Regions from separate parts of the Homo sapiens genome. Here all the other regions are linked to region 6. The links come from fine-mapping of genetic effects on gene expression. A gene starts in region 6. Each other region holds a variant in brackets. All regions are shown on one strand. Distances are between the middles of the regions.

Region 1 (5,065 bases), 21 kb before region 6:
AATGACTACTATCTAAAATATATACTAGAGAGCTCTCAAATTCAACAGCATAAAAAAGAAAACAATCAAATTAGAACATGGGCAAGCCAGGCATGGTGGTGCGTACCTGTAGTCCCAGCACTTTGGGAGGCCAAAGCAGGAGGACTGCTTGAGCCCAGGAGTTCCAGACCAGCCTGGGCAACATAGTGAGACCCCATCTCTACATGAAATTAAAAAACTAGCCAGGCGTCGTGGTGCACACCTGTAGTCCCAGCTACTCAGGAAGCCAAAGCAGGAGGATTGCTTGATCCCAGGAGTTCAAGACCAGCCTGGGCAACATAACAAGATCTGATTTCTTAAAAAACAAACAAACAAACAAACAAACAAACAAAAAAACACGAAGAAGAAAAGAACATGGGCAAAAGATCTGAAGGCAAAAAGACATTTTACCAAAGAGGAAATATAGCAGATGGCAAATAAACGTATGAAAATATGTTTAACATCATTAGCAAAAAGAAGAATGCAAATTAAAACCACAGTGAGATGCCACTGCACGCTATCAGAGTGGCTAAAATAACAAATAGTGACAACATCAAATGCTGGTGAGGATGCAGGCAAACTGGGCCACTCATACACTGCTGATGGGAAAGTTAAAAGGTACGGTGACTCTGGAAACAGACTGGCAGTTTCTTAAAACAACAACAACAAAAAAAAACTAAACACAACATGAAACTACCGCATGAACCAGCAACTGTCCTGGGCATTTACCCGGGAGAAATGAAGAGTCATGTTCATACCACATCCTGTATGCAGTGTTGGCCACAGCTTTATATGTCACTGCTCCAAACTGGTAACACCCCGGATGTCCTCCAATAAGTGAGTGGTTCAGCAAACTGTGGTCCAAGCACACCATGGAATACTACTCAGCAATGAAAAGGAATGAACAGCTGACACATATGCAATAATCTGGATGACTCTCCAGAGAATTATGCTGAATGACAAAGGCCAAACCTCAAAGGTTACATACTGAATAATTCCATCACATAACATCATTAAAATGATAAAATTGTAGAAATGAACAGAGTGGTGGTTGCCGGGGATAAGGAAGAGATGGGCTGGGAGGGAAGTGGGTGTGGCTATAAAAGGGCAACAGGAGGGACGTGTTCTGTACCTGGCTATCAACAAGACCCTATCTCTACAAAAAAAAAAAAATAGCCACGCATGGTGGCACATGCCTGTGGTCCCAGCTACTCAGGAGGCTGAGGCAGAAGGATTACCTGAGCCCAGGAGTTCAAGGCTGCAGTGAGCTATGATCGTGCTACTGCACTCCAGCCTGGGCAACAGAGCTGTCTCTTAAAAAAGAAAAAAAAAGCTTTCAAACCTTGATTCCGTGCTCTGATGCCCTCCCCAGTCCATGTCATTCACCTTGCTGCTTTGCTGAATGTCTAAACTCTCAGGGGTGGTTCTATTGCTTCTCGGTTCCTCTCCAGGGCAGGGAACGCATGCCTTACCCCTGTGTCATGCCCCACTGCAGGCCCTGAGTTCTGTCTGGGCTGGACGGAGGCCGTGAGCCCCAGGCATGTCCATCTTCTTTTTTTTTTTTTTTTTTTTTGAGACGGAGTCTCACTTTGTTGCCCAGGCTGGAGTGCAATGGTGCGATCTCGGCTCACTGCAACCTCCGCCTCCCAGGTTCAAGTGATTCTCCTGCCTCAGCCTCCCAAGTAGCTGGGATTACAGATGCATGCCAACACACCTGGCTAAATTTTTGTATTTTTTAGTAGAGACAGGGTTTCACCATGTTGGCCAGGATGGTCTCGCCCTCCTGACCTCAGGTGATCCACCCGCCTCAGCCTCCCAAAGTGCTGGGATTACAGGCGTGAGCCACCACGCCTGGCCAGGGCATGTCCAACTTCTGCTGGTCTCGCAAGGTGGTCATTTGGGTCCCCAGAGAATCCAGGACTCTTCCTTCAGAACCTGAACATAGCCATCATCATCAATATCCCAGATGCAATACTGTACCACCATTATGCAAATGTTGCTTCAGAGGAAACTGGATAAATGGTACAGGCTCTTTTTTTTTTGAGACAAGAGTCTCGCTCTGTTGCCCAGGCTGGATGGCAGTGGTGCAATCTTGGCTCACTACAACCTCCGCCTCCCAGGTTCAAGCAATTCTCCTGCCTCAGCCTCCCGAGTAGCTGGGATTACAGGCACCCACCACCGTGCCCGGCTAGTTTTTATACTTTTAGTAGAGACCGGGTCTCACCACGTTGGCCAGGCTGGTCTTGAACTCCTGACCTCAGGTGATCTGCCTGCCTCGGCCTCCCAAAGTGCTGGGATTACAGGCGTGAGCCACCGCGCCCGCCCAGACTCTCCAACAACTGCAAGTGAGTCTACCATCATCTCAAAATGAGAAGTTTTGTTTTTTCTTTAAAGACTTAGGAAACCTAATGACCAAATGCAAGGTGACATTTGCAGACAATCAGGGAAATGTGAATATGGTCTTGTTATCAGATAATACCAATACCAAAGGCGTTATTATTAGTTGTGTAAGGTGTGATAAGGCATTGTGGTTATGTAAAGGAAAACGGTCTTAACTGTTAGAGGTGCATGTTGAAATACAATTTCTTTTATTTATTTATTTTATTTTTTTTATTTTTTTTGAGATGGAGT[T/C]TTGCTCTGTCGCCCAGGCTGGAGTGCAGTGGTGAGATCTCCACTCACTGCAAGCTCCACCTCCCGGGTTCACGCCATTCTCCTGCCTCAGCCTCCCAAGTAGCTGAGACTACAGGTGCCCGCCACCTCACTCGTCTAATTTTTTGTATTTTTTAGTAGAGACAGGGTTTCACCATGTTAGCCAGGATGGTCTCGATCTCCTGACCTCGTGATCCACCCGCCTCGGCCTGCCAGAGTGCTGGGATTACAGGCGTGAGCCACCGCGCCTGGCCTACAATTTCTAAGATTAAAAAAAAACAGGCCAGGCACGGTGGCTCACACCTGTAATCCTAGCACTTTGGGAGGTCGAGGCAGGCAGTTACCTGAGGCTGGGAGTTCAAGACCAGCCTGGCCAACATGGTGAAACCCTGTCTCTACTAAAAATACAAAAAAATTAGCTGGGTGCGGTGGCGTGCACCTGTAATCCCAGTTACTCTGGAGGCTGAGGCAGGAGAAATGCTTAAACCCAGGAGGCGTAGGTTGCAGTGAGCCAAGATCACGCCACTGCACTCCAGCCTGGGCTACAGAGTGAGACTTCGTCTCAAAAAAAAAAAACCACACAACAGGAGGCTGGGTGCAGTGGCTCACGCCTGTCATCCCAGCACTTTGGGAGGCTGAGGTGGGTAGATCACCTGAGGTCAGGAGTTCTAAACCAGCCTGGCCAACATGGTGAAACCCCATCTCTACTAAAAATATAAAAATTAGCCAAGCGTGGTGGCAGGCACCTGGAATCCCAGCTACTCAGGAGGCTGCGGCAGGAGAATCACTTGAACCCGGGAGGCAGAGTTTGCAGCGAGCTGAGATTATGCTACTGCACTCCAGCCTGGGCAACAGGAGTGAAATTCCATCTCGAAAAAAAAAAAAAAACACAAGCCAGAGCCAGGTGTAGTGGCACTCGCCTGTAGTCCCAGCTACTCGAGAAGCTAAGGCAGGAGGATTGCCTGAGGCCAGGAATTCCAGGCTGCAGTGAGCTATGATCACTGGGCCTCTGAATGGCTACTGCACTCCGGCCTGCACAACATAGCAAAATGTCATCTGAAAAAAAAAAAAAAAAAACCTAAGAACTAAAAATATACGTAGGTGGGGGAAAAGATCAAAGGGTGGTACAAAGAAATCTGCAAAATATTGATAACTGTTGTAAATGGGCAGTGGGTACATGGGAATTCATTAAACCCTTCCCTCTACATCTATTTTATTTTTTTATTTTTTTATTTTTTTTGAGATGGAGTCTCGCTCTGTCCCCCAAGCTGGAGCGCAGTGGCACGATCTTGGCTCACTGCAAGCTCCGCCTCCCCGGTTCATGCCATTCTCCTGCCTCAGCCTCCCGAATAGCTAGGACTACAGGTGCCCACCACCATGCCCAGCTAATTTTTTTGTATTTTTCTTAGTAGAGACGGGGTTTCACCGTGTTAGTCAGGATGGCCTCGATCTCCTGACCTCATGATCTGCCCGCCTCGGTCTCCCAAAGTGCTGGGATTACAGGTGTGAGCCACCGCGCCCGGGCTTTATTTTATTTTTCATAGAGACAGAGACTTGCTCTGTCACCCAGGCTAGAGTACAGTGGTGCCATCATAGCTCACTGCAGCCTCAACCTCCTGGACTTAAGGGATCCTCCTTCCTTAGCCTTCCAAGTAGCTGGGTCTATAAGTGCATGCCACCACACCCAGCTAATTACTATTTTTTATTTTTTGTAGAGACGGGGTCTTGCTTTGTTGCCCAGGCCAGTCTCTAACTCCTGGGTTCAAAAGATCTTCCCACCGGGGCCTCCCACGGTGCTGGGATTATAGGTGTGAGCATGCCCAGCCATCAACTTTTAATGTGTTTAAAGGCCATTTGGGCTGGGCACAGTGGCTCATGCCTGTAATCCCAACACTTTGGGAGGCCGAGGTGGGCGGATCATGAGGTCAGGAGATCGAGACCATCCTGGCTAACACGGTGAAACCCCGTCTCCACTAAAAATACAAAAAATTAGCCCAGCGTGGTGGCAGGCGCCTGCAGTCCCAGCTACTCGGGAGGCTGAAGCAGGAGAATGGCGTGAACCCGGGAGGCGGATCTTGCAGTGAGCCGACATCGAGCCACTGCACTCCAGCCTGGGCGACAGAGCGAGACTCCATCTCAAAAAAAAGAAAAAAAAAATGACTTATCGGGTACTATGTTCACTACCAGGGTGACAGGATCCGTATTCCAAACCTCAGCATCATGCAATACTCTCATGTAACAAATATGCACATGTACTCTCTGTATCTACAATAAAAAAAGCTGAAATCCAAGAAAGAAAAAAGAATTCCTATAAAAAAAAAAAAAAGGCCATTTGATGTGCTTCTGCCTTGGCAAGGACCCTAATGGCACAAGCTGCGTCAGGTTTAAGTGTGACAAA
Region 2 (5,065 bases), 37 kb before region 6:
CGGGCGTGAGCCACCGCACCAGGCTAAGACTTTCTTTAAAGAGAATGCATAAAATTTTTCCTAAATTTGCAGCAGAGTTGAAAATACTTTTACCTTGAGCTTTATCAGAAGAAAAAGAGTAATTAATAGTAGAAAAGAGCCAGGAGTGGTGGTGCTCTTGCAGTCCCAGTTACTCCAGAGGCTGAGGTGGGAGGATGGCTTCAGCCTGGCAGTTCGAGACCAGCCTGGGCAACACAGTGAGACCCCATCTCTAAAAACTCAAAAAAAGAAATAAAAAAGCCCGGGTGTGGTGGCTCACGCCTGTAATCCCAGCACTTTGGGAGGCCGAGGCGGGTGAATCTGAGATAGGAGTTTGGGACCAGCCTGGCCAACATGGTAAAACACCATCTCTACTATAAATACAAAAATTAGCTGGGCGTGGTGGCATGCACCTGTAATCCCAGCTACTTGGGAGGTTGAGGCATGAGAATTGCTTGAACCGGGGAGGCAGAGGTTGCAGTGAGCCGAGATCGTGCCACTGCACTCCAGCCTAGGCAACAGAGCAAGACTCCATCTCATAAATAAATAAATAAATAAATAAATAAATAAATAGACACAGACACACATTCCCACATTCAGCACAATGGAAAGGGGGAAAGCCCAAGTTGGGGAGCTTAAGACTGAGCTCTACTGGTCCCAAAGCCCCAGGCAGCAATTTCACTTCTGAGTCCACCTCCTCATCTGTGAAGTGGAAGGATTCTGGCACCTTCCCCAGGGACTGGGTGAACACTGTAAGCCACACCCTAGGAAGCCCTGAGCCAGCTGGGGCTGGACCCACAGGAGCGCTGATGAAAGCCCCTGATGGCACAGGGAGAAAACAGAGCAAGAGCCTTGTAAGCACCATGGGGAAAGAGAACAGTGGCGCCCACACACAGCAGGGACACTGAGTGCAGAAGAACCAAGCCCGTGGCCCACTTACCCTGCCCAGGACATCAAGAGGCAGCTTTGAGTTCATGAGGACTGGCTTGACTTTGTCTCCAGAGAGCAAACCATTGATGGGCAAGAGGCTTTCAAAAATCCCATCAAATTTGGCCTTTTCTTCCACCTAGTTGGAAAGAAATAGCCCGAGTAAGTAGGAGAGCACACCTGTGTGAATGTCCAGACCGAGCTCTGACCGAAAGCCAAGTGAAAATGGCCACGGACCCATCATCACCCTTGGCTAAAAGCACAAAATGATCTTAGAACAGTCTTGGCCCCTTGGTTTCCAAAGTGAACATATACCCTGAAGGAAATAACGTTATGGCAACCTCGGATCTGGGAGCCAAGGTCCTCAGGAGGGAGGCCCTGGCCCCGGGTCTTGTCCTTCGTCCTAGCTGCTGCCTGAGTGTGGCAGGAGTCTCCCATGGTGGGGCAGTGTCTTTGCAGGGAGACAAAGATCAGTCTCACCTGCCTCCAAGGAGCCCACTTGTACCAGAAAGACAAAAGTGTGAGCAGATGTTAGTGCTTGAGCAAATAATTATCAAAATCAACTTAAAGTACAGGAAGTCCTCTTTTTTTTTTTTTTTTTCTTTTTTTGAGACAAAAATCTTGCTCTGTTGCCCAGGCTGGAGTGTAGTGGCACAATCTCAGCTCACTGCAACTTCCGACTCCCAGGTTCAAGCAATTCTCGTGCCTCAGCACTCGTACCTCCCGAGTAGCTGGGATCACAGGCATGCGCCACCAGGCCCGGCTAATTTTTGTATTTTTTGTAGAGATGGTGTTTCAACATGATGGCCGGGTTGGTCTTGAACTCCTGGCCTCAAGTGATCCGCCTGCCTCGGCCTCCCAAAGTGCTGGGATTACAGGTGTGAGCCACCAAGCCCAGCCACATACAGGAAGCCCTCCATTTCTAATGGTAAATAAATTAATACGTAAATAGGAATAGCTCTTCATGAACAGAGGGAAGGTACAGCATTAGGATGGGGAGTCACAGTTCCTGCTGTTCTGAAAGACATAGGGCAGGCAGCCCGTAAAAGGGGCCATGAGTGAGGCAGTGGCTTCCAGTCTGTTCCACCCTCCAAAGGAAACTTAACATTCCTGAACTGTACACTTAGAAATGGTTAAGATGGTAAATGTTACATGATGTGTCTTTCAACCACAATAAAAATTTTTTAATTTTTAAAAGACAAAAACCAAGACAGAGCCCTCAGTCACAGAGATGAGATCACCGGCAGACACCGCATGCTTTCACAG[C/T]TGTTGGTGCTAAGAAGCTGAGCGCTGCAGGTCTTTCTCGGGGGCCTGGGATCCTCTCCTGGCCATCGGACTTGCTGACTCAGTGCCTTCAGAAGCCCAGAAATGTTCACAACGGAAACAAACACTTGGCACTTCGGGCTTGTTCTTTCTGACTGTGGCTGTGAATGGAATGCAGAATCTCTCTCGACCACAGTACACCCCAATTACAGCATCTGGTCCTGTGCTCCCTGACTCCTCTCTGCGAGGTCCCCAGGCCCCTCAGTCCCAGCTCTTCCAGTGAGGCCTGGACATAACCCCTGGTGGAAAAGAGCCATCACATTTTAAAGTATAAGATCTCTTGGCACTGTTTCCCATGACAAAGTAGCTCTTTTTCAAAGTCCACACAATGCGCTGGGTGACAGGGAGAAACCCTTCACCACAGTGATTGCCACTGGCAAAGTGCTTGATGACAGAGGTGACTGCATGACTCCTCAGTCACATGACATATCTTCATGTCCTCTCCCTGCACAGATACCCCCACCCAGCCCATGACCTCTCCAAGAAGGGAGCAAACCAACCGTGTAAACATGGGACGAAAGTGCTTGGGACCTTTATTTGAGAGCAAGAGTGTTATTCATGTCAGGATTTAAGCCACATAAACGTGAGGAAATGTGACAGTCTGAAAGTGAAGGGAAGGTGAGGAGGCCTGATGTTACTTGGAGGGACCATGCTCACTTCCTTTAGAAGGAATTCTGTACTTAGAAGACAGCCCTCGTTTTTTTTCTTCTTTCTGGACGCAGTAGCTTATCTTTCCAGCCACAACATCCTCTGTTTTAAAAATAACACTTCAAGTGCTGAGAGAGGCTTTTCACAAAGCAATCAGAACATCAGGGAGGAAAGAATGGTAACATGCAAAGTGGCTGGAAAGAAGCGAGAAAGCAAGGGACACATTTGGGGGTCCACGTGCTTGCAAGCTCTCACCGTTTCCTCTTCTATTCTGAATAACCAACACAAGCAGCAAAAACCACAGAATGTGACCTAAAGATGCAAGATTTAAACTGCAGCCCTTTAATAATCCAACTCCTGACACTTAGTTGTCCAGGTAGGCAACTCCCAATTCCAGTGAAGGGCCACAGCCTTTGTAAAAGGTGTTCATTAGAAGAGGCGTTTCATCCAAGTGCTGTGGCCACTCACACTGAGACAGAAGAGCTGACACAATCATCCTATAAAATGTTCTGAACAACATCAAACTAGAACAATTCCAGAACAATTCTAGAACAACTGCTGGAACAATTCTATCTGAAGGAGAGCCAAGGAGGGAGCTATTCCCGTTCACTTACCCTCACAGCCCAGTGGGCCTCTGCAGAGGGCGGTGTGACCATCAGAGGGCTGCTGGTGTCGTGCTGAGAAGAGAGAGAAACATTCCTTTGTGGCTGGCACAGAATTAAATCATAGGTGGGTGGGTTTGCTGAAAAGGATACACGTTTCAAAGTGCTTTCAAAAAAGGGAAGACTTCACAAAGTTAAACACAGAATCACCACATGACCCAGCAATTCCACTCCTACGTATTGACCCAAATGAATTAAAAACGGATGTCCAAACAAATCCTTGTACATGAATGCTGGTAGCAGCACTATTCACAACAGTCAAAAGGGTGGAAATAACCCACATGTCCAGAGAGATGAATGGATAAAGATGTGGTCCATCCAGTAAATGGAATATGGAAACACTGATCCATTCTACAACATGGATGAACCCTGAAAACACGATGCTGAGAGAGAGGCCAGACACAAAAGACCATGTTAGAGAATTCCATTGATAGGAAATGTCCAGAACAGGCAAATCCATTGACAGAAATAAAATTAGTGGTTGCCAGCGACTGGGAGGGGGAGACAAGGAGTGATTACTTAATGTGGATGGGGTCTCCTTGCGGAGGGATGAAAAAGTTCTGGAGCTAGACAGAGGTAATGAAGACACAACACTGTAAATGCACTAAATACCACTAAATAGTTCACTTTAAAATTATTAATTTTCTATTATGTGAATTTCACCACAATAAAAGGGGAAGGCTAGAGAAAACATGGAAATATACATGCACATACACACATGCACATACACACACACACACATCTGGTATTAGAAGAATGTGAACTTGAAGGACTTGGACACTCACAAATTTAGGCGGTGGCATGCTCAAATTCAGATTGCTCAAGGTAACTTCATGGCCACTCTGTGCACAGGCCACCAGTCTCAGTGCAACATAGAAACCCTGCAAGTCCAAAGAAAGGGAAGGAGTAAACAGCATATCGCCAGTGAGGGTAGGGGGAGCTGTCTCTAACAGCAGGCTTCAGGGAAAGAGGATGTGCACTTCAACAATGAAGGCCGTCCGTGCAAAAACCCCTTGGAGCGTTGGGCTGAACTGGACTCACCTTGGGGACATCGCTTAAATGAATACACTAAAATGGACTTATCCTGGCCAGGTGTGGTGGCTCATGTCTGTAATCCTAGCACTTTGGGAGACCGAGGCAGGTGGATCACCTGAGGTCAGGAGTTCGAGACCAGCCTGGCCAACATGGCGAAACCTCATTTCTACTAAAAACATAAAAATCAGCCAGGCGTGGTGGCAGGTGCCTGAAATCCCAGCTACTTGGGAGGCTGAGGCAGGAGAATCACTTGAACCCAGAGGGTGGAGGCTGCAGTGAGCCAAGATCATGCCACTTCACTCCAGGCTGGGCAAAAAGAGCAAAACTCCGTCTCAAAATAAATAAATAAAATAAAATAAAATGGACTTATTCCACTGCATCTGGAAATCTGTAAAATTTCAGATGCATATATTTTCCAAAAACTATGAGCTCCCAACATTTAGGAAATGTTA
Region 3 (5,065 bases), 21 kb after region 6:
CAGGCACTCTGCTTCTATATAATTTTTTTTTTTTGACATGGAGTCTCACTCTGTCGCCCAGGCTGGAGTGCAATGGCGTGATCTCGGCTCACTGCAACCTCCACCTCCCGGGTTCAAGTGATTCTCCTGCCTCAGCCTCCTGAGTAGTTGGGATTACAACTACAATTAGCCACCACGCCAGGCTAATTTTTGTATTTCTAGTAGAGATAGGGTTTCTCCATGTTGGTCAGGCTGGTCTTGAACTCCTGACCTCAGGTGACTGCCCGTCTCAGCCTCCCAAAGTGCTGGAATTACAGGTGTGAGCCAGCGTGCCTGGCCCATACAACTTTTATTTCACACACCTGGAAGTTTTTGTTCTTAATATACCACTGTTCTTAATTAGTTAATTAATTATTTTTTGAGATGGAGTCTCGCTCTGTCGCCCAGGCTGGAGTGCAGTGGCACGATCTCTGCCCACTGCAAGCTCCACCTCCTGGGTTCACGCCATTCTCCTGCCTCAGCCTCCCGAGTAGCTGGGACTACAGGCGCTGGCCACAACACCCAGCTAATTTTTTGTATTTTTAGTAGAGACAGGGTTTCACCATGTTAGCCAGGATGTTCTCGATCCCCTGACCTCATGATCCGCCTGCCTCGGCCTCCCAAAGTGCTGGGATTACAGGCGTGAGCCACCGTGCCCGACTGGTCCCTTTCCTAAACATTCTACTCTGCCTTTTCAGCATAAAAGGCAGCCATAGACAATATATAAATGAATGGACTGCCAGGCATGCTGGCTCACGCCTGTAATCCCAGCACTTTGGGAGGCTGAGGCAGGCGGATCACGGGGTCAGGAGTTTGAGACCAGCCTGGCCAACATGGTGAAACCCTATCTCTACTAAAAATACAAAAATTAGCGGGGTGTGGTGGCATGTGCCTGTAGTCCCAGCTACTCAGGAGAGTGAGGCAGAAGAATCGCTTAAACCCAGGAGGCGGAGGTTGCAGTGAGCCGAGATTGCACCGCTGCACTCCAGCCTGGGTGACAGAGTGAGACTCCGTCTCCAAAAAAAAAAGAATGGATGTGGCTGTGTTCCAGTGAAACTTAATGGACACTAAACTTTCTTTCTTTCTTTTCTTTTTTCTTTTGAGACAGAGGCTCGCTCTATTGCCCAGACTGAATCTCTGCTCACTGCAACCTCCGCCTCCCAGGTTCAAGCGATTCTCCTGCCTCAGCCTCCTGAGTAGCTGCGACTACAGGCGTGCGACACCATGCCTGGCTAATTTTCATATTTTTAGTAGAGATGGGGTTTCACCACGTTGCCCAGGCTGGTCTTGAACTCCTGGCCTCAAGTGATCCACTCACCTTGGCCTCCCAGAGTGCTAAGATTACAGGTGTGAACCACTGTGCCTGGCCTAAACTTTCACATATGTGAAAGCAAATACAATTTAAAGCCTTGAGAGGCCAGGCATGGTGGCTCACATCTGTAATCTCAACACTTTGGGAGGCTGAGCCGGGTGGATCACTTGAAGTCAGAAGTTCGAGACCAGCCTGGCCAACGTGGGGAAACTCCATTTCTACTAAAAATACAAAATTAGCCGAGCGTAGTGGCGCGTGCCTGTGGTCCCAGCTACTCGGGAAGCTCAGGCAGCTGAACTGTTTGAACCTGGGAGATGGAGGAGCCATTGCACCCCAGCCTGGGTGGCAGGGCGAAACTCCGTTTAAAAAAATAAATAAGCCAGACGCAGTGGCTCACGCCTGTAATTCCAACACTTTGGGAGGCCGAGGCGGGCGGATCACCTGAGGTTGGGAGTTGGAGACCAGCCTGACCAACATGGAGAAACCCTGTCTCTACTAAAAATACAAAATTAGGCCGGGCGCGGTGGCTCATGCCTGTAATCCCAGCACTTTGGGAGGCCGAGGCGGGAGGATCACGAGGTCAGGAGATCGAGATCATCCTGGCTAACACGTGAAACCCTGTCTCTACTAAAAAAAAAAAAATACAAAAAATTAGCCGGGCGTGGTGGCAGGCGCCTGTAGTTCCGGCTACTCGGCAGAAGAATGGCGTGAACCCAGGAGGCAGAGCTTGCAGTGAGCCGAGATCGCGCCACTGCACTCCATCCTGGGCTACAGAGCGAGACTCCGTCTCAAAAAAAAAAAAAAAAAAATTAGCCAGGTGTGGTGGCACATGCCTGTAATCTTAGCTACTTGGGAGGCTGGAAGCAGGAGAATCATTTGAACCTGGGAGGCGGAGGTTGTGGTGAGCAGAGATCACGCCATTGCACTCCAGCCTGGGTAACAAGGGTGAAACTCTCTCTCAAATAAATACATAAAATAAATAAAAACCTTGAGCAAGTTGTGTGATCTGAGTCATGCAGCATGCAGGTGTAACCTCTGCTTCTTAAATCATAGATAAACCTTCTTCCTCATTGTTCTTGTTTGGCAAATGACTAGGACAAACCAGAGACCAGGCCTCCTCTATTTGTGACCACTGACCTTAGTTACAGATTAACTGCCTCCAGGACTGACCTGTACCTAACTCAGACCAGATGGCACAAAAGATGCCGTGACTGTTACATCTTCAGGGTGAAATGTTAAATATACCTTCTCAAAAGAAAAAGACCACCTTGACTAATGGGATCATGGTCATTATCTATCAAGCCTTGCCTAGAAAGATGCTGAAATTCTGTTAAGCTTCTCTAAACTTTGTCTATACAAATGATCCCAAACTTCTACACTTCAGAACA[C/T]TGACTTCTATTCTTTGGGATCTGTGTTTTCCACACAGTTGTCCTTAAACTTTGAGCTTGAATTAGCTCTCTTGAAGCTAGAATTTTTTTTTTTTTTTTTTTTTTTTTGAGACAGAGTCTTGCTCTGTTGCCCAGGCTGGAGTGTAGTGGCACGATCTCGACTCACTGCAACCTCCGCCTCTCGGGTTCATGTGATTCTCCTGCCTCAATCTCTCAAGTAGCTGGGACTACAGGCCTATGCCACCATGCTCGGCTAATATTTGTATATATATATATTTTTTTTCTTGAGACAGAGTCTTGCTCGGTTATCCAGGCTGGAGTGCAGTGGCATGATCTTGGCTCCCTGCAACCTCCGCCTCCTGGGTTCAAGTGATTCTCCTGCCTCAGCCTCTGAAGTAGGTGAGATTATAGATGTGTGCCACCATGCCCAGCTAATTTTTGTATTTTTAATAGAGACGGAGTTTCGCCATGTTGGCCGGGCTGGTCTCAACCTCAAGTGATTCGCTTGCCTTATCTTGACCTGCCTGTACAAAAGTAAAAGCTCATTGTGTTGTACCCTGAAGAATGTGCAGGCGACAAGATGTAATGTTTATCTCTGTATTTTTTTCTTTTATTTTTTGAAATGGAGTCTCATTCTGTCACCCAGGCTGGAGTGCAGTGGTACAATCTCAGTTCACTGCAACCTCTGCCTCCTGGGTACAAACGATTCTTCTGCCTCAGCCTCCCAATTAGCTGGGATTATAGTTGTGCGCCACCACACTTGGCTAACTTTTTTGTATTTTTGTGGAGACAGGGTTTCACCATGGTGACCAGGCTGGTCTCAAACTCCTGACTTCAAGTAATCCGCCTGCCTTGGCCTCCCAACATGCTGGGATTACAGGCGTGAGCCACCGTGCCTGACCATATTTTTCTTTTTTTTTGAGATGGAGTCTCACTCTGTCACTGAGGCTGGAGTGCAGGGGCATGATCTCTGCTCACTGCAACCTCTGCCTCCCGGGTTCAAGTGATTCTTCTGCCTCAGCCTCCCGAGTAGCTGGGACTACAGGCATGAGCCACCACACCCAGCTAATTTTTGTATTTTTAGTAGAGACAGGGTGTCACCGTATTGGCCAGACTGGTTTTGAACTCCTGACCTCATGATCCGCTCGCCTAAGGCCTCCCAAAGTGCTGGGATTACAGGCATGAGCCACCGCGCCTGGCCTATTTTTCTTTTTAATACGAAAATTAAAATGAGAAAAAGTACCCACTAACCTTTTCCTTCTGAGGGGCATGGCCCTTGATCCTCAAATGCACTTGACTAGTGTCTATTAAGAGGGGCAATTTTGGTAATGCCTACTAATAACACATTCATATAAATATAATCCAAAGAAGGTTAAATACCATTGCATATTTGACAGTGCTTCAAGTATGATTTTATTATACCAAATAAGCTGAATATGTCTCCTTGGACTTCAGGGGACCTAATACCAATAAAAGTAATAATAATGATAATAGGCCAAGCACCATGGCTCACGCCTATAATCCCAGCACTTTAGGAGGCCGAGGCAGGTGGATTACTTAAGGCCAGGAGTTTGAGTCCAGCCTGGGCAATGTGGTGAAACTCTGTCTCTAAAAAAATTAGCAGGGCATGGTGGCGCACGCTTGTAATCGCAGCTCCTCAGAAGCCTGAAGCAAGAGAATCACTTGAACCCGGGAGACGGAGGTTTGAGTGAGCCAAGATCGTGCCACTGCACTCTAGCCTAGGCGACAGAGCGAGACTCCTACTACCAAAAAAAAAAAAAAAAAAAAAAAGGAATCTTTGGCAATAAAGAAAGGAGAGAGGAGGCTGGATGTTGTGGCTCATGCCTGTAATCCCAGCACTTTGGGAGGCCAAGGTGGGTGGATCATGAGGTCAGGAGTTCGAGACCAGCCTGGCCAACGTGGACCCTGTCTCTACTAAAAGTACAAAAATTAGCCGGTCATGGTGGCGCGCGCCTGTAGTCTCAGCTACTCGGGAGGCTGAGGCAGGAGAATTGCTTGAACCCGGGAGGTGGAAGTTGCAGTGAGCCGAAATCGCGCCACTGCACTCCAGCCTGGGCAACAGAGCAAGGCTCCGTCTCAAAAAAAAAAAAAAAAAAAAAGGAGAGAAGAAACAAAAAAACAAGGAAAGGAGCCCCTTAAGTTCTACCTTTGCCTTAATGTCTTCATCTGTAAAACGGGAATAAAAGCGTTTTGGCTGTGCCACAACTACCTAGAGAGGTTGCTATGGAAATGTAACATTAGGCTCAATTTGGTCCTGATTCTACACTAACCTTTATCTTTCTCTTTATGACCATAAAACTTGCCCGACGAAAGTCTAAAATGCCCA
Region 4 (5,065 bases), 120 kb before region 6:
CCTCCCAAATGGCTGGGATTACAGGTGTGAGCCACCGTGCCCTACCTGCATTTTTTTTTTTAGACGGTGTCTTTCTTGTCGCCTGGGCCAGAGTGCAATGGCATGATATTGGCTCACTGCAACTCCACCTCCTGAGTTTCAAGTGATTCTCCTGCCTCAGCCTCTCGAGTAGCTGGGATTACAAGTGCGCACCACCACGCGCGGCTAATTTTTGTGTTGTTTTTTTTTAGTAGAGACAGGGTTTCACTATGTTGGCCAGGCTGGTCCCCAACTCCTGACCTCAAGTGATCCCCCCCACCTCGGCCTCCCAAAGTGCTGGAATTACAGGCATGAGCCACCGCACTCAGCCAAAAAAACAGAGCAATTCTGAATAAAGTAAGGACTCTAGTTAATAATAATGAATCCGTATTGGTTCATTAATTGGGATGTAAGTAATGTGTAATGTAAGATGTTAAAAATAAGGTAAACTCTCTAAGGGGCTTATGGGAACCCTTCGTATTTTCTTTGCGATCTTTCTGCAAATTTAAAACTGGCCAGGCACAGTGGCACATGTCTGTAATCCCAGCCCTTTGGGAGGCTGAAGTGGGAGGATCACTTGAGCCCGGGGAAGTGGAGGTTGCAGTGAGCTGAGATCACACCACTGCACTCCACCCTGGGTGACAGAGCTCAGACCCTGTTTCAAAAAAAAATTTTTTTTAAGGATAAATTGTCTAAGGGGCTTATGGGAACTCTTTGTATCTTTGTGATTTTTCTGCAGGTTTAAAACTGTCCTAAAAAATAAAGTTGGTTAAAACATAAAAATGGGCAGGGCTTGGTGGCTCACGCCTGTAATCCCAGCACTTTGGGATGCTGAGACAGGAGAATTGTGTGAGTCAAGGAGTTTGAGACCAGCCTGGGCAACATGGCAAGATCTCATCTCTTAAAAAAAAATTTTTTTTAAAAGTAAAAACTTAAGATTTAAAGAGCAATGTTCCACCTGGTTGATCTGCTTCCTGATACCCATGCAGGGAAAACAATGTTTACAGAGATTAAAGAAGCTTCTCTTGTTTTGTATTAAAATATTTTATATTAATCATTCAAACTTCATTTTATACAACGAGTGCATACACCACTGGGGGAGTGTCTGACTGATGCGTGGGAGGGCGGGTGGGGATGTCTGCAGCTATGAGTAGGGAGGAGGCGGGGAAGCCCTGGGTGCTTCCTCTCCTCGACTGACCGCTGTGTGTTCGTCCCCAGAGGAAGAGCGGGAGGCAGTCAGCCCCGGGGGGGATGGCACAGTGGAGAGACGGACCTGCAGAAGTGGTGGCCAAGGCCTCTGTAAGGGCTTCCCCAGGAGATGTGACCTTTCCAGGTCTTGCAGCCGAGTCTGCTCACCCTGAACAAGCCCCCGAGTCCCGGTCCTTGGAGTACGGTGGCGACGGTGTGTGTGTGTATATATAGACATCTGCACTGCCCCCTCTCTGGAACCCGCCCGTGCCCTGTCCCGCCTACACACGGCCCTCGCCTAGGCGGCAGGCATGTCAGCCTTGCTGAGCGCGATGGCCAGTTCCAGGTCCTCCTGCTCCTGCCGCCGCAGCCGCGCCAGCCTCTCCTGTTCCGCCTTCTCGCTCTCCCGCTTGGCCCACGCCAGCTGCTGCTCCTCATTGCCAAACTGCAAAGGAAAAACGGAGAGTGGGTGATGTGGCCCTGGGGCTGGGACCTGCAAGCTGGAGGGAGGCAGGGAATGCGTGGGAGGGGTCAGGGTCCTGCCCACCGCCCAGCGGAGGGTCCGATGTGCAGGGGATAAGCATGTCTTGGCTGGGCCCAGTGGGCGTGCGAGCCTGTCTCAGGCCCCCCATCTGGAAAGCAGAGTGGACGGGATGCATGTGATTGAGTGTGACCTTAACCATGACCTCTGGGCCTCAAAGAAACCAGCCACCCCGCCCCACGCAGAGAAGTGAGGATGGGCCCTTGACGCTGGTGGCCAAGAGGTGCAAAGATGGGGAACTTCCAGCGTGCATGGCTCTAAAGCCCCACGGCGCAGACAATTCTGCACTCTGGGAATGTGGTATTTCTACCTCCAGCCATGCTCCAGAGAGCTCTGAGACCCTCTGAGGGTCATTTTCTTTTTCTTTTTCTTTTTTTTTTTTTGAGATGGAGTCTCGCTCTGTCGCCAGGCTGGAGTGCAATGGCGCGATCTCGGCTCATTGCAACATTCACCTCCCAGGTTCAAGGGATTCTCTTGCCTCAGCCCCCTGAGTAGCTGGGATTACAGGCATGCGCTACCATGCCCAGCTAATTTTTGTATGTTTCGTAGAGACGGGGTTTCACCATGTTGGTCAGGCTGGTCTTGAACTCCTGACCTTGTGATCCACCCGCCTCAGCCTCCCAAAGTGCTGGGATTACAGGCGTGAGCCACCGCACCCGGCTCTGAGGGTCAATTTCTCCCAGAACACTGACAAAAGGTGTGGCACTTACACTGCCATTTAGTCAAGTTTTTATCCGTGGGGTGTTTTTCTAAAATGTTCAGTTAAAATAAAAACTTAAAAAAGGGAGAAAACCATCTTGATGCTGAGATAGGTGATTTCAAACAACTCAAAGTACTTTAGTCATGAAAAGAAAAGCCACATCCCACAAGCTCCTCCCCCAGGGTGGGTCCCAATGTCCCAGACTTCCCTGAGAGGTCACTGGCATCATCGGCCCCCTCAGGAAAGCTGCTGCTGCTTAGGGATTCAAAGGATTCCCTTATTAATGTCTCTCTGCGATGC[A/G]CTGCCTCTGACCAGCTCTCTGCTCAACACTGGAGTAACACCAAAGATAACATGCGCAGTGGCTCTTCCCCAGGCACCCTTGGGAGCAGAAATATACAAACAATCCCAGAACGATCCAGGACCCAAGGACCCAGGCTCTCGAGGAGGGCCCTGCAGACTAACCCAGGAAGGTGGGGGAAAGAAGCACACAGGAACACTCACGGCCTCTCCACCACACGCAGCACTAGGTCTGCGTGACAACCTGGGGGTGGGCCCGCTGTCATCTCATCCCTCTGACAGCTGGGGACACTGAGGCCAGGGAAGGGGTGGCTCACACTCTAGACTTTTTCCCCCCCAGGCCTGTGGGGAGCAGGATACTAGGTGAAACTGACAGGGAGGATGCGTCCCTGCGAGGTTCTGGGTGTGAGGCTCAGTGCCCGACCTTGGGGTAGCCAGGATGAAGCGTGGGGTGGGATAAGCCAGACTGAGGAGGGGCTCGTGGGCCCCAGGAAGGAGCTGGGATTTCCCCGTGGAGGCTCCTTGGGCGAGCGAGTTGGGTGATCAGATTGGCAGCGTCTGGATATTTCACGGCTTGATGGTGGCATGAGCGGGAAGCAGGAGAGAGGAGGGCCAGATGGCAGGGCTGGGGGGACTGGGCAAGGTGCAGGAGCAGATAAATGCAAGGAACCTGGTTGGGAGGCAGATGTGGCAGTGAGGGGGATGCGGGGCCCTGGAGGCCTCCCTCTAGCTGGCCTCAGGACCCAGATGGGGGACAGGCGGAGTGTCAGTATCAAGAAAAGATGTCCCTGGGAGGAAGGGCTGAGTCTTGACTTCTTAAAGAGGCACTGCCCAGCTAAACACTTGGGGGTCTGATGAGTCTCCAGGTCGGACTCCCTCCCCGCCATTGTGTCACTGCCAGGGGCACAGATAAGCATCCCCCCCGCCCCAGTTTGGGGAATTTTCCAACACCTCATGGGGAGAAAAACAAGGAAAAACCAACAAGTGCAGGTGGAAATTATTCCATGGTGCTGCTGACAACAGTGGGAGGGAGACAGTGCAGCTGACGGGGACCTCACCCTCCACCAGCCTTGAGGACAGGGTGGGTGGGAGCTGACAGTAATGTTCGCCTGGATCCAAATCAAAGCCTGGAACGACCAAGTAACCGGCCTGCTGGGTCTGAACCACAGCCCTCTGGCCGCCTTTGGCCCCACTGAGCCCCCGTGTCACAGTGTCACTGAAGCGCCTTCCCTTGACGGGTCTGTGTTTCCAAATGAAAGGTGTCAGCAGGAAAGTTCCTGGTGCCTTCAGAGTCGACCGGTTCAAGGCCAGCTCACGAATCCACTGTGGAGACTTGCATTGGTGAGGTCTGTATGCACTTAGGAGGCACGCTGGGCTGTGAGGCCTGGGAGAGCTCTCCTGAAAGGGGACTCCGCAGCTCCCTCTGTGTCTGCTGTCTTAGCCCTGGACGGGGCCACCTTCTAGTTCTCGTATCTGGGTGGGTCACACGGGCCAGAATCTGGATGTCTGTGGCCGATGCAAAACCAATAGTGGCTGGGAAACACACTGGCTCTGATTTCTGCTTCCCTCTGGCATTACCATGGAACCGAGACACCGTAGGGGCATGACACCACCCTAGCCGAGGCCTGCCCACTCAGGATGGGGTTCATTTTCAGAAGCAAATAAGTGGTTCATTTCAGCAGCCTCTTGGAAATCCGCAGTTTAGACAGCTCGGCACGCTGGGCGATGGGATGGCCCCGGGAGGCGCCCGGCACCTGTCCTCACTGGCGCTCCAAGGTGTCTGATGGCACTTCCACCCCACCATGTGCAGGACATGCCTAGCCACTTCCCATTCATTCATTTACCGACAATGAAATTGTATCCAACTCCTTCAATAATTCGAAGCACGGCCTAGCTGATCTGGTATTTGCACTACTCTTAATGCGAACTTCCAAAAGAACCGTTCCGCTAACCTAGAAATGCCACTTCCTAATACACACATTTGCCTGAGACAGAAAGGCCTGCTTTTAAAGAAATACCAGAGAGGGAAGAGGTTTCCCGGGAACAGCCACACACGCAAATAACCCATTGATGGAAATTTGGGGTTTGTAAATTAGAGGGTTCTGGAGAGGCACCGCCGGGGCACCACCTCCACAAGTGAGGTGCGGGTGACCTGGGCCCCCCTGACTGCCAGCATGGACTGGGCTGCTCCTGCACAGGTAAAAACATGCCCTGAACAGCAGTCTCAGAACGTCCACGCTGAAAGAGTCACGCTGCCAATCTGCCGGGCAGTCAGACAGCCCTCTTGGCATTTGCTCAGGGAAGTGGAATCATTCAAACCA
Region 5 (5,065 bases), 570 kb after region 6:
GAGGGCCATGTCTCTACCCACCTCATTTGGAGGCTGTCTACACCAGTCCCTGTTGCCTGGGGGCTATGTACACCTCCCCATCCCACCTGAGGACTATGCACCCATCCACCTCACCTAGGATTTACCCACACCCACCTGGGGGCCATGTCCCCACCCACCTCACCTGGGAGCTAACTACACTCGCTCACCTCACTGTGTCCCTACAGGGTGAGCACAGGCGGAGGGCAGGGAGTGGGGCAGGAGTGTCAGGGAGCAGGGCAGGGGTGTGTGCGTCTGTCCGGGAAGAAGGGTGGAGATGCTGCCTGCAGCCCTTTTTACCTGCACCTGAGCCCTCAGTGCAGCTCTGCATCAGACACTCCCAGGGCCCGGGGTCTGGTGACCGGCACCATCTCCTGTCTCTTAGGTGGCATCTCTGCCCAACCATTCCTTCTTAGAGGCTCCTGTGACATGAGAGCAGGAATGGGGCCTGGGACAGCACTGGAATAAGAAAACCGAGGCCCTGGCCAGGTGCGGTGGCTCACACCTGTAATCCCAGCACTTTGAGAGGCCGAGGAGGGAGGATCACTTGAGGTCGGGAATTCAAGACCAGCCTGGCCAACATGGTGAAACCCTGTCTCTACTAAAAATACAAACATTAGCTGGGCGTGATTGTGGGTGCCTGTAATCCCAGCTGCTCAGGAGGCTGAGGCATGAGAATCACTTGAACCCAAGAGGTGGAGGTTGCAGTGAGCCGAGACTGTGCCACTGCACTCCAGCCTGGGCGACAGAGCGAGACTCGGTCAAAAAAAAAAAAAAAAGAAAAAGAAAAAGAAAGAAAGAAAGAAAGAATGGAGGGGCAGGGTGGGAGAGAGAGAGAAAGGAAAAGAAACGAAAAGAATAAGAAAAGAAAAGAAAAGAAAAGAAAAGAAAAGAAAACAAAACTGAGGCCCAGACACGATTCAGCCCCAGTAGGCACCCTGGCAAGCTCTGCCTTCTGGGCAAGCAGGCTGGAAATAAAAGCACCACAGTGAACACCCTGGCCCGCCTCGGCTCCGCCAGCAGCATCTGTCCTGGAGAAGACGCCAGCTCAGTACCAGAAATGTTCCGGACACAACCTGGACCGGGCAGAAGCTGAGGAGCCACCAGGCTGCCAGCAGTTCCAAGCACATGCTAGGGGCTGCGGAGGGGGCTCGCCACCCTCTAACTCCCTGGGGGTGGCCTCGTCCAGCCCCGCAGGAGGCCTCTGTCTATTGGAGCTAAGCCTGGAGACGGCCACTCCGGCCAATGGCCTGTCCAACCCAGGTGTAGACAGCCCCTGAGTGAGGCAAGCAGGCACATGGCCCCCCAGGTGAGCTGAGTGGGTACATGGCCTGCCGAGGTGAGGTAGGCAGGTATAGGTAACCCCCAAATGAAGTAGACAACCCCCAAGATGAAGTGAACAGGTGTAGACAGCCCCTGGTAGACAGGGGCATGGTCCTCCAGATAAGACGGGTAGGTGCATGGCCTCCTAGACGACATAGGTGGTAGACAGCCCCCAGGTGAGGGGGACAGGCATAAATAGCCCCCAAGTGAAGTGGACAGGCATAGAAAACCCCCAGGTGAGGTGGACATGTGTAGAAATCCCCCAGGTGAGGCGGACAGGCGTAGAAATCCCCCAGGTGAGTTGGACAGGCGTGGAAATCTCCCAGGTGAGGTGGACAGGTGTAGAAAGCCCACAGGTGAGGTGGACAGACGTAGAAAGCCCACAGGTGAGGTGGGCAGGCCTAGAAAGCCCCCAGGTGAGGCAGACAGGTGTAGAAATCCCCCAGGTGAGATGGACAGATGTAGAAATCCCCCAGGTGAGATGGACAGATGTAGAAATCCCCCAGGTGAGATGGACAGATGTAGAAATCCCCCAGGTAAGATGGACAGACGTAGAAAGCCCAAAGCTGAGGTGGACAGGTGTAGAAATCCCCCAGCTGAGGCTGACAGGTGTAGAAATCCTACAGGTGAGGCAGACATGTGTAGAAATCCCCCAGGTGAGGAGGACAGTTGTAGAAATCCCCCAAGTGAGGTGGACAGGCATAGAAATCCCCCAGGTGAGGTAGACAGGGACATAGCCCCCAGGTGAGGTGACCACTTCCTTCCCTTCCTTCCTCCCATCACCAAATGTC[C/T]ACAGACACCGCCCCCACCCAGGCCAGCATACCAGGTGCTGGAGACTGGCCCAGCTCTCAGTGGCTCCCAATATTTTGGCAGATCAGTTCCAAACAGGTGCATTCTAGAAACTCTGACAGCAGGGCTCACCCCACAGGGCACCGGTGAGGATGGGAACCCAGGAATGTAAGGCCAGCCCTGAGCCTGGACCTAGTCAATGTTCCATAAACGGCAGCCTAGGGACACTGGGACCAGGCAGCCCAGGAGTGGGAGGGAGGAGTTGGCTCCTGCTGGATCATGGTGGTGGGGCAGGGTGGGGGTCGGGGGGATGTTGCAGGAGGAGACGTTTGTTTCATCACTTGTTCATGCAAACCTTCTGAGGCACCCTCGCCATTCAGCTCCCCAGGCCCCCATCCAGCCCACAGCCTCTGCCATCCCTGCCCTACCCTGGGACTTGGACTCTCATTGCCCTGTGAGCCCGGCTGGCTCATTCCCGCTTCCCAGCCAGCAGCCCCTCACCTGCCAGGGCTCCAATAAGCTTTGGCTCTGGAGGGCACCCACACTGCCCCTCCTCCAGCCATCTTTTTTTGGGAGTATAATTGGGGTATAATTTACATACCACAAAGTTGACCCAGTGAAAGTGTCTGGTTCAATAGATTTACTATTGATTAAGATCTATTTAATCAATAGATTTTAGTATACTTACAGTTGTGCAACTGTCATCACTTCTATTTCATTCTAGAACATTTCATCCCCCAAAAGGAGACCCCGTCCCCATTAGCAGTCACTCCCCATTCCCTCTCCCAAAGCCCCTGGCAGCCACTCATTGCTTCCTGTCTCTATGGATTTGCCTGTTGTGGGCATTTCATATCAATGGAATCTCACACTATGTGGTGTTTCGTGACTAGCTTCTTTCACTCAGCATTGTGATTTTGGGGGTTTTGTTTTGTTTTGTTTTTCAGACAGGATCTCACTGTCGCCCAGGCTGGAGTGCAGTGGAATGATCATAGCTCACTGCAGGCTTCATCTCCTGGGCTCAAGCGATCCTCCTGCCTCAGCCTCCCAAGTAGCTGGGACTACATACAGGTGAGCACCACCACACTCAGCTTTTTTTTTTTTTTTTTTTTTTTTTTTGAGACGGAGTCTTGCTCTGTCGCCCAGGCTGGAGTGCAGTGGCACAATCTTAGCTCACTGCAAGCTCCGCCTCCCAAGTTCACACCATTCTCCTGCCTCTGCCTCCCAAGTAGCTGGGACTACAGGTGCCCACCACCACGCCTGGCTAATTTTGTTTTTGTATTTTTAGTAGAGACTGGGTTTCACCGTGTTAGCCAGGATGGTCTTGATCTCCTGCCCTTGTGATCTGCACATCTCGGCCTCCCAAAGTGCTGGGATTACAGGCGTGAGCCACCGCACCTGGCCCACCCAGCTAATTTTTATATTTTTTGTAAAGCAGGGTCTAGCTATGTTGCCCAGGCTGGCCTCAAACTCCAGGGCTCAAGCGATCCTCCCTCCTGAGCCTCCCCAAGTACCAGGATTACAGGCATGAGCCACTGCACCCAGCCTTATTTGGTTTTTGTATGGGTCTGCTTTATTTTTCTGGTATTGGTCTTAAGTTCTCCAATTTATCTCCTCCCGTTCCCCCTTCATTTCTTTCCAATCAAGCTGTTTCTCTCCCTCCCCATCACTCCCCTGAAACTGATTTCATCAATGTTACCAATGATAGACAATTTCCTTAATTGAATGTTCTATTTGTGTGCTTGTTTTATTTGATTTACAAGAAGCATTGGACACAGCTCTCTTTTTCTTTCTTTTCTTTTCTTTTCTTTCTTTGAGACGGAATCTCCCTCTCTTTCCCAGGCTGAAGTGCAGTGGTGCAATCTTGACTCACTACAACCTCTGCCTCCCAGGTCCAAGCGATTCTCATGCCTCAGCCTCCTGAGTAGATGGGATCACAGGCATGCACCACCACACCGGTTAATTTTTGTATTTTACTGGAGACAGAGTTTCACCATGTTGGCCAGGCTGGTCTTGAACTCCTGGCCTCAAGTGATCCACCTGCCTCGGCCTCCCAAAGTGCTGGGATTACAGGTGTGAGCCACCATGCCCAGCCTCTTTTTTTTTTTTTTTTTTGAGGCAGAGTCAGTGGCGCAATCTCGGCTCACTGCAAGCTCCGCCTCCCGGGTTCACGCCATTCTCCTGCCTCACCCTCCTGAGTAGCTGGGACTACAGCCGCCCGCCACCACACCCGGCTAATTTTTGTTGTATTTTTTAAGTAGAGATGGGGTTTCACCGTGTTAGCCAGGATGGTCTCCATCTCCTGACCTCGTGATCCACCCACCTCGGCCTCCTAAAGTGCTGGGATTATAGGCGTGAACCACCGTGCCCGGCCCCATGCCCAGCCTCTTTAACAAACATCTTAATTGGCTTTATGATTGCAGGTGTACTTTGGTTCAGCAACTCCAAGGGCCCACATAACCTGCCTCAGAACTCCGCATATCTGCCTTCTTCCATCCTGTGGTCCCTCACACCAGATGTGGTGGGTGGCAGTCCTAACAGCCTCCTGTCCCTGAAACCTGCCGGTACCTCTCACTGCAACTCCGGGAGGCTGGTACAAATGCTCCTATCCCAGGTCAGCCCTGGACCCGGAGGCCAGAGACAAAAAGACCCCAGCTGGGCTTCCAGCTCCCCAGGGGAAAGTTTGGTGCCGAAAGGAAAATATTTACGTGGTTTGTAAGTTGAGCTATCCCCCTGCAGAAGTGATCAAAAGGACAGTAAAGATGGAAAGTCCGTGTTGTCGTGATGCAGGCTGTGCCAAGCCACGCAGCAGGCGTGATCCTGGAGGACTCTTCAGGGAGCTGATGGACGTGACCTGCCGACCCTTTTGTTTTCTGAAATCACCAAACATCTGCTGAGTGAGCTGCTTCCTGGACCCTTTTGGGAATGTTCCCAGGCT
Region 6 (5,065 bases):
ATTTCCAAACGAAGAAAACCAGGCCACGCCTTCATTCAACAAATGTATAGGGAAAGGAACAGGAAGAGGCTAAGAAGTCAGTGACCTGGCCAGGCGCAGTGGCTAACGCCTGTAATCCCAGCACTTTGGGAGGCCAAGGCGGGTGGATCACTCGAGTTCAGGAGTTTGACACGAGCCTCGCCAAAATGGTGAAACCCCGTCTCCACTAAAAAAAAAATACAAAAATTAGCCGGGTGTGGTAGCACGTGCCTGTAGTCCCAGCTACTCAGGAGGCTGAGGCAGGAGAATCACTTGAACTCGGGAGGCGGAGGTTACAGTGAGCTGAGATCATGCCACTGCACTCCACCCTGGGTGACAGAGCAATACTCCATCTCAAAAAAAAAAAAATTGGACAGGAAGTTTTAGAAAGATCCACGCCTCCCAAACTGGGAGTGCTTAGTGCTTTCTCATGAAATGATCTTAGGTGATTTTCCCCCGACTCCCGCCTTCCCCGCCCCCCACCCCCTGACTACATACTCTAAACTGTAGCACTTAGCTATTAACACCTATTATCGGTAGGACACTTAACAGTTTACAGAGCACTTTCATGTCAGTAACAAGAACTTGCTAATTAATAATCACCGGGTTTTAGCACTGTTAACTTAGTGACAGTGTTGCAAATTGGCTAGCTGTGCACTTCTCTCTCCTTGGATCAGCTAACCAGTCATGCAAGCATGCAACCGGCCTATCAACTCTCTTTGGGTTTGGAATTCTTAATTGCTGCGGTCTCTACTCCCAAACGTCCAAATCTGGCAGAGATTAAATGATGACAGTAATTATAGGATCACTGAGTGCCTCTCATATGCTAGGCACTGTTCTAAGCGCTTTTTCACGTGCTTAATTTTCACATAATCCCAACACATTTTTATATCTCCATTTTCCAAAGGAAGCAACTGATGGGTGGAATGGCTAAGAGCTTCAACCAAAGGCACAGAGAAATCGGGGCTGGAGCCAAGATTTGAACACATGATCTGACCCTGTGTCCTCACTCTTAATCACCATGCTGTGCTAGATCATTCTAGCAAAATGCTTATATGGTGCTTTGCACAACACAGGTATTCAGCAAATAAAGGCAGCTGTGATTAGCATAACACAGGTAGTTTCTAGTTCCCACGAGTGTCACCTCCAGGAAAGCAGCGACCTTGTCTGTCTGGAAGAATGCAGCGCTCCCAGCACCTGACCCAACGCACATTTGAGGGATGGATAGAAAATGAATGAATGAAAGTCTCTCCCAAATAACAGAGCTGCCTACGCATGGCTCTTTTTCGCATGTCTGTGTCGCGCTATCGATACTGCCCCTTCATAAGCGCATCAGGCGAATTTGAGGACACAGAGAGGCGCCCGGAGACGTACGATCTGCGCCCGGTGCAGGGGTGGCGGAAGCAGCTTCCAAGGAGGCAGGGGATCAGTCTGAGATCGCACTGCTGCTGACGGGTCCGGGCTCCGGCGGGACCCTGCCCGCCCGGGCGCCGGGACCGGAGGGAGACAAAGACTCGCTGGGCCGCCGCGCCGACAGAAACGCTCGCACCCCTCGCCCACCCCTCCGGGATGCAGCCCAGCGCCTCCGCGGGTCCCCGGCCTGGGAGCTTCAGCGGCGGCAGGGTCCGGGCCCTGGGCGGAGAGGACACGCGCTGCGCACCTCCTCGCCTCGCCGGTGCCCGCGAGGGTCGCTCGGGCACGGGAGGCCGCGGGTCCCGGCCTGTCACCTTCAGGGCCGCCTGCCCACCCGCCCGCCGCAAGCCCTTCAGCACGCGCCGCCCCCGCCGCCGCCTGGCTGAGTCTCCCAGCGCCTCAGCCTCGCCGCACCGCTCGCCTCGCGCCCCGCACCCCGGCGCCGCCCCCAGGCCCGCCCGGCCCGTACCTGCTGGGAGAGGGGGATGAGCGGCGCCGCCATCTTCCCGCGGACTCGGGCTCCGAGCGCCGGGGGAACGGGGGCGGGGCTGCAGCCACGCGTGCGCACTGGGACGACGGGAGGGCGGTGCGCAGGCCGCCTGTCCCGGGAGAGGGCGGGGCCGTAGACAGGGCCACGCATGTGCAGTCAGGCCGGGAGGGGCGGGGGCAGGGGCGGGGCCGCCCACACGCAGCCTGGAGGGGCTGGGCCTGAGGCATCTGCGTCTTCCGTGCTCTCTTGCCCGTTCCCCTACTCCTCCTTCCAACGTTGTTCGGACTCTCATGCCGCTGGCCGCTGTCCGAGTCGACCATGCTGTGTCATCCCTCCAGCCCATGCCGAGGCCTGGTTCTCTGTTAGGGATGCCGTCCCCCTGCCAGTGCGCCTGGGGAGGCGGTCGCCCACCCCGCGGAGGGTCGGGACCCTCACCCTGCCCCGCAAAGCGCCCTGTTCCTAGGATCGCAGTGTGTGTGTGTGTGTGTGTGTGTGTGTGTGCGCGCTAATTTGGGGGACCCGCACCCTGCCCCCCTCACCCTGCCCCGCAAGGCGTCCTCCTGGCTGTGGTGGCGGGCACCTGAAATCCAAGCTACTCAGGAGACTGAGGCAGGAGAATTGCTTGAGCCCAGGAAGCAGAGGTTTCAGTGAGCCAAGATCACACCATTGCAATCCAGCCTGGGCAACAGAAGCGAAACTCTGTCTCAAAAATAAATAAATAAATAAGACAAGAACCCACTTGTTGCCAGGTACAGTGGCTTACACCTGTAATCCCAGCACTTTGGGAGGCCGAGGTGGGAGGGTCATGAGGTCAGGAGTTGGAGACCAGCCTGGCCAGTATGGTGAAACATCAATATGGTGAAACCCCATCTCTACTAAAAAAAATACAAAAATTAGCAGGTGTGGTGGTGCATGCCTGTAGTCCCAGCTACTCAGGAGGCTGAGGCCAGAGAATCACTTGAACCCGGGAGGTGGAGGTTGCGGTGAGCCAAGATTGCACCACTGCACTCCAGCCTGGGTGACAGAGTGAGACTCTGTCTCAAAACAAAGTCAAAAACAAAAAGAACCCACTTGTAACTGTTGCTAATCAAAGCATACATTCAGGGCAACTTGAATCTGTGTCTCCTGGACTGCGGTCCTCAACCTTGGCCCAAACTCTCTACTTATATTAACTTTGCCTCAGCTTCTTTTGTTACATCAATAGAGTAATGAAGGTTTTTAACAGTCTTGAGTGCTTTATCAGTACGTATTCCATAAGGAAAAGAGAAGTCCTTCTAGGTACTTCAAACAGAGGATATTGAATACAGGGGATTGAGCCAGGCTCTGTGGCTCACACTTGTAATCCCAGCAATCCAGTTGAGACAGGTAGATTGATACCAGCCTGGCCAACATGGAGAAACCCCATCTTTACTAAAAATACAAAAATTAACCCAGTGCAGTGGCAGGTGCCTGTAATCCCAGCTACTCAGGAGGCTGAGGCAGGAGAATTGCTTGAACCTGGGAGGGGAAGGTTGCAATAAGCTGAGAACTCACCATTGCACTCCAACCTAGGTGACAGAGCGAGACTCTGTCTAAAAAATAAATAAATAAAAATAAATGAATACATAAACGACTACAGGGGACTGAGTATAAAAGTGTTGGAAGTACTGGAAGAACAAAAGAGGAAGGTAAGTTTACCTAAAGATTCATAACTATATGAGGCTGCTAGCCTCTCTAGAGCTGAAAGATTAAAGCAGGGGAGGTGGCTGGGCATAGTGGCTCACGCCTGTAATCCCAGCACTTTGGGAGGCCGAGGTGGATGGATCACCTGAGGTCAGAAGTTTGAGACCAGCCTGGCCAACATGATGAAATCCCGTGTCTACTAAAAATACAAAAATTAGCCGGTTGTGGTGGTGGGCACCTGTAATCCCAGCTACTCGGGAGGCTGAGGCAGGAGAATCACTTGAACCTGGGAGGCGGAGGTTGCAGTGAGCTGAGATCACGCCACTGCACTCCAGTTTGGGCAACAAGAGCGAAACTCCGTCTCAAAATAAATAAATAAATAAAGCACAGGAGGACCCATAACCCACAATCACTGTGCCTACAGAAGGATCCCAGATGTGTTCACCCTTGCTAGCCACAGTTGCCTCCACCATGATTGCGAAAGTCACAGTTGTTGTTGTCACCACCACCTAAGCCACTGGCAGAAGTCTGAAAAAATGGTTTCTCCCCTCTTTCTGCCTCCCAACTTTGTTCTAATAAAGCATGACAGGAACGTTGCCAATTGGCAACGGCGTCCAGGAAATGTAGCATGCAGGCTTTAAGTGCCAGTATCAGAGTCTAGAATGGTGGTGGCCATAGAAACTCTCCAGCATCATCTTGTAAAAATAATCCAAACTTGGCTGGGCGCGGTGGCCCACACCTGTAATTCCAGCCCTTTGGAGGGCCGAGGCAGGCAGTTCACGAGGTCAGGAATTCGAGACCAGCCTGGCCAACACAGTGAAACCCCATCTCTACTAAAAATACAAGAATTAGCCAGGCGTGGTGGCGGGTGCCTGTAATCCCAGCTACTCGGGAGGCTGAGGCAGGAGAATTGCTTGAACCTGGGATGGGGAGGTTGCAGTGAGCCAAGATCGCACCATTGCACTCCAGCCTGGGCAACAAGAGCAAAACTCCGTCTCAGAAGAAAAAAAAGAAAAAAAAAAAGGCCGGGCATGGTGGCTCACGCCTGAAATCCCAACACTTTGGAAGGCCGAGGCAGGCAGATCATGAGGTCAGGAGATCGAGACCATCCTGGCCAACATGGTGAAACCCCATCTCTACTAAAAATACGAAAATTTAGCCGGGCATGGTGGGGGGTGCCTGTAGTCCCAGCTACTTGTGAGGCTGAGGCAGGAGAATGGCATGAACTCAGGAGGCGGGTCTTGCAGTGAGCCGAGATCGCGCCACTGCACTCCAGCCTGGGCAACACAGAAACTTCGTCTCAAAAAAAAAAAAAAAAATCCAAACTTAATCATACACTTTTGAACCCTAAGAATTATGTTGAGCCTTGAAGAAAACGGGACTGTGTGATCTGAGCCAGACAGCATGTAACTACAACTTCTGCTTATAGATTATAGATTAACTCTCCTGTTCTTGCTCTGTAGATTCATTTCAAGACTAAAT

Alleles and levels. Alleles are on the strand shown, and positions count from the first base shown. SD is a standard deviation of normalised expression in the study named. Not every link is listed here.
As copies of T replace C in region 1, the expression in monocytes after R848 of the gene that starts at base 1,958 in region 6 goes down (small effect, 0.39 SD a copy in Quach 2016).
With allele C in place of T in region 5, the expression in CD4 T cells of the gene that starts at base 1,958 in region 6 is lower (large effect, 1.5 SD a copy in CEDAR).

Evidence for each region. PIP is the estimated chance that this variant, and not a neighbour inherited with it, causes the effect.
Region 1: its variant is fine-mapped to the expression of EPS15L1 in monocytes after R848 (Quach 2016, PIP 0.91).
Region 2: its variant is fine-mapped to the expression of EPS15L1 in whole blood (TOPMed, PIP above 0.99).
Region 3: its variant is fine-mapped to the expression of EPS15L1 in whole blood (TOPMed, PIP above 0.99).
Region 4: its variant is fine-mapped to the expression of EPS15L1 in whole blood (TOPMed, PIP above 0.99).
Region 5: its variant is fine-mapped to the expression of EPS15L1 in CD4 T cells (CEDAR, PIP 0.95).

The regions. Positions count from the first base shown.
Region 1 is chr19:16,448,908-16,453,972 of GRCh38, forward strand. All of the region lies in intron 1 of EPS15L1 (epidermal growth factor receptor pathway substrate 15 like 1), which reads right to left. Among named protein-coding and RNA genes, the nearest start is that of EPS15L1, 21 kb to the right of the region's middle. RefSeq lists an enhancer at 4,661-5,065. The variant T/C (reference allele first, on the strand shown) is at 2,650.
Region 2 is chr19:16,433,407-16,438,471 of GRCh38, forward strand. EPS15L1 (epidermal growth factor receptor pathway substrate 15 like 1) reads right to left here. Exons shown (of 24, transcript NM_001258374.3): 5 at 4,364-4,459; 6 at 3,531-3,593; 7 at 959-1,084. Among named protein-coding and RNA genes, the nearest start is that of EPS15L1, 36 kb to the right of the region's middle. The variant C/T (reference allele first, on the strand shown) is at 2,212.
Region 3 is chr19:16,490,742-16,495,806 of GRCh38, forward strand. CALR3 (calreticulin 3) reads right to left here. Exons shown (of 9, transcript NM_145046.5): 2 at 5,010-5,065. Among named protein-coding and RNA genes, the nearest start is that of CALR3, 2.9 kb to the right of the region's middle. RefSeq lists an enhancer at 4,690-5,065. The variant C/T (reference allele first, on the strand shown) is at 2,719.
Region 4 is chr19:16,354,201-16,359,265 of GRCh38, forward strand. EPS15L1 (epidermal growth factor receptor pathway substrate 15 like 1) reads right to left here. Exons shown (of 24, transcript NM_001258374.3): 24 at 1,047-1,651. The coding sequence ends at 1,505. Among named protein-coding and RNA genes, the nearest start is that of KLF2, 32 kb to the left of the region's middle. The variant A/G (reference allele first, on the strand shown) is at 2,748.
Region 5 is chr19:17,037,137-17,042,201 of GRCh38, forward strand. No RefSeq gene overlaps it. Among named protein-coding and RNA genes, the nearest start is that of CPAMD8, 13 kb to the left of the region's middle. The variant C/T (reference allele first, on the strand shown) is at 2,133.
Region 6 is chr19:16,470,013-16,475,077 of GRCh38, forward strand. EPS15L1 (epidermal growth factor receptor pathway substrate 15 like 1) reads right to left here and starts at 1,958. Exons shown (of 24, transcript NM_001258374.3): 1 at 1,901-1,958. The coding sequence starts at 1,933. RefSeq lists enhancers at 1,136-2,047, 1,280-1,429 and silencers at 1,510-1,729, 1,790-2,189.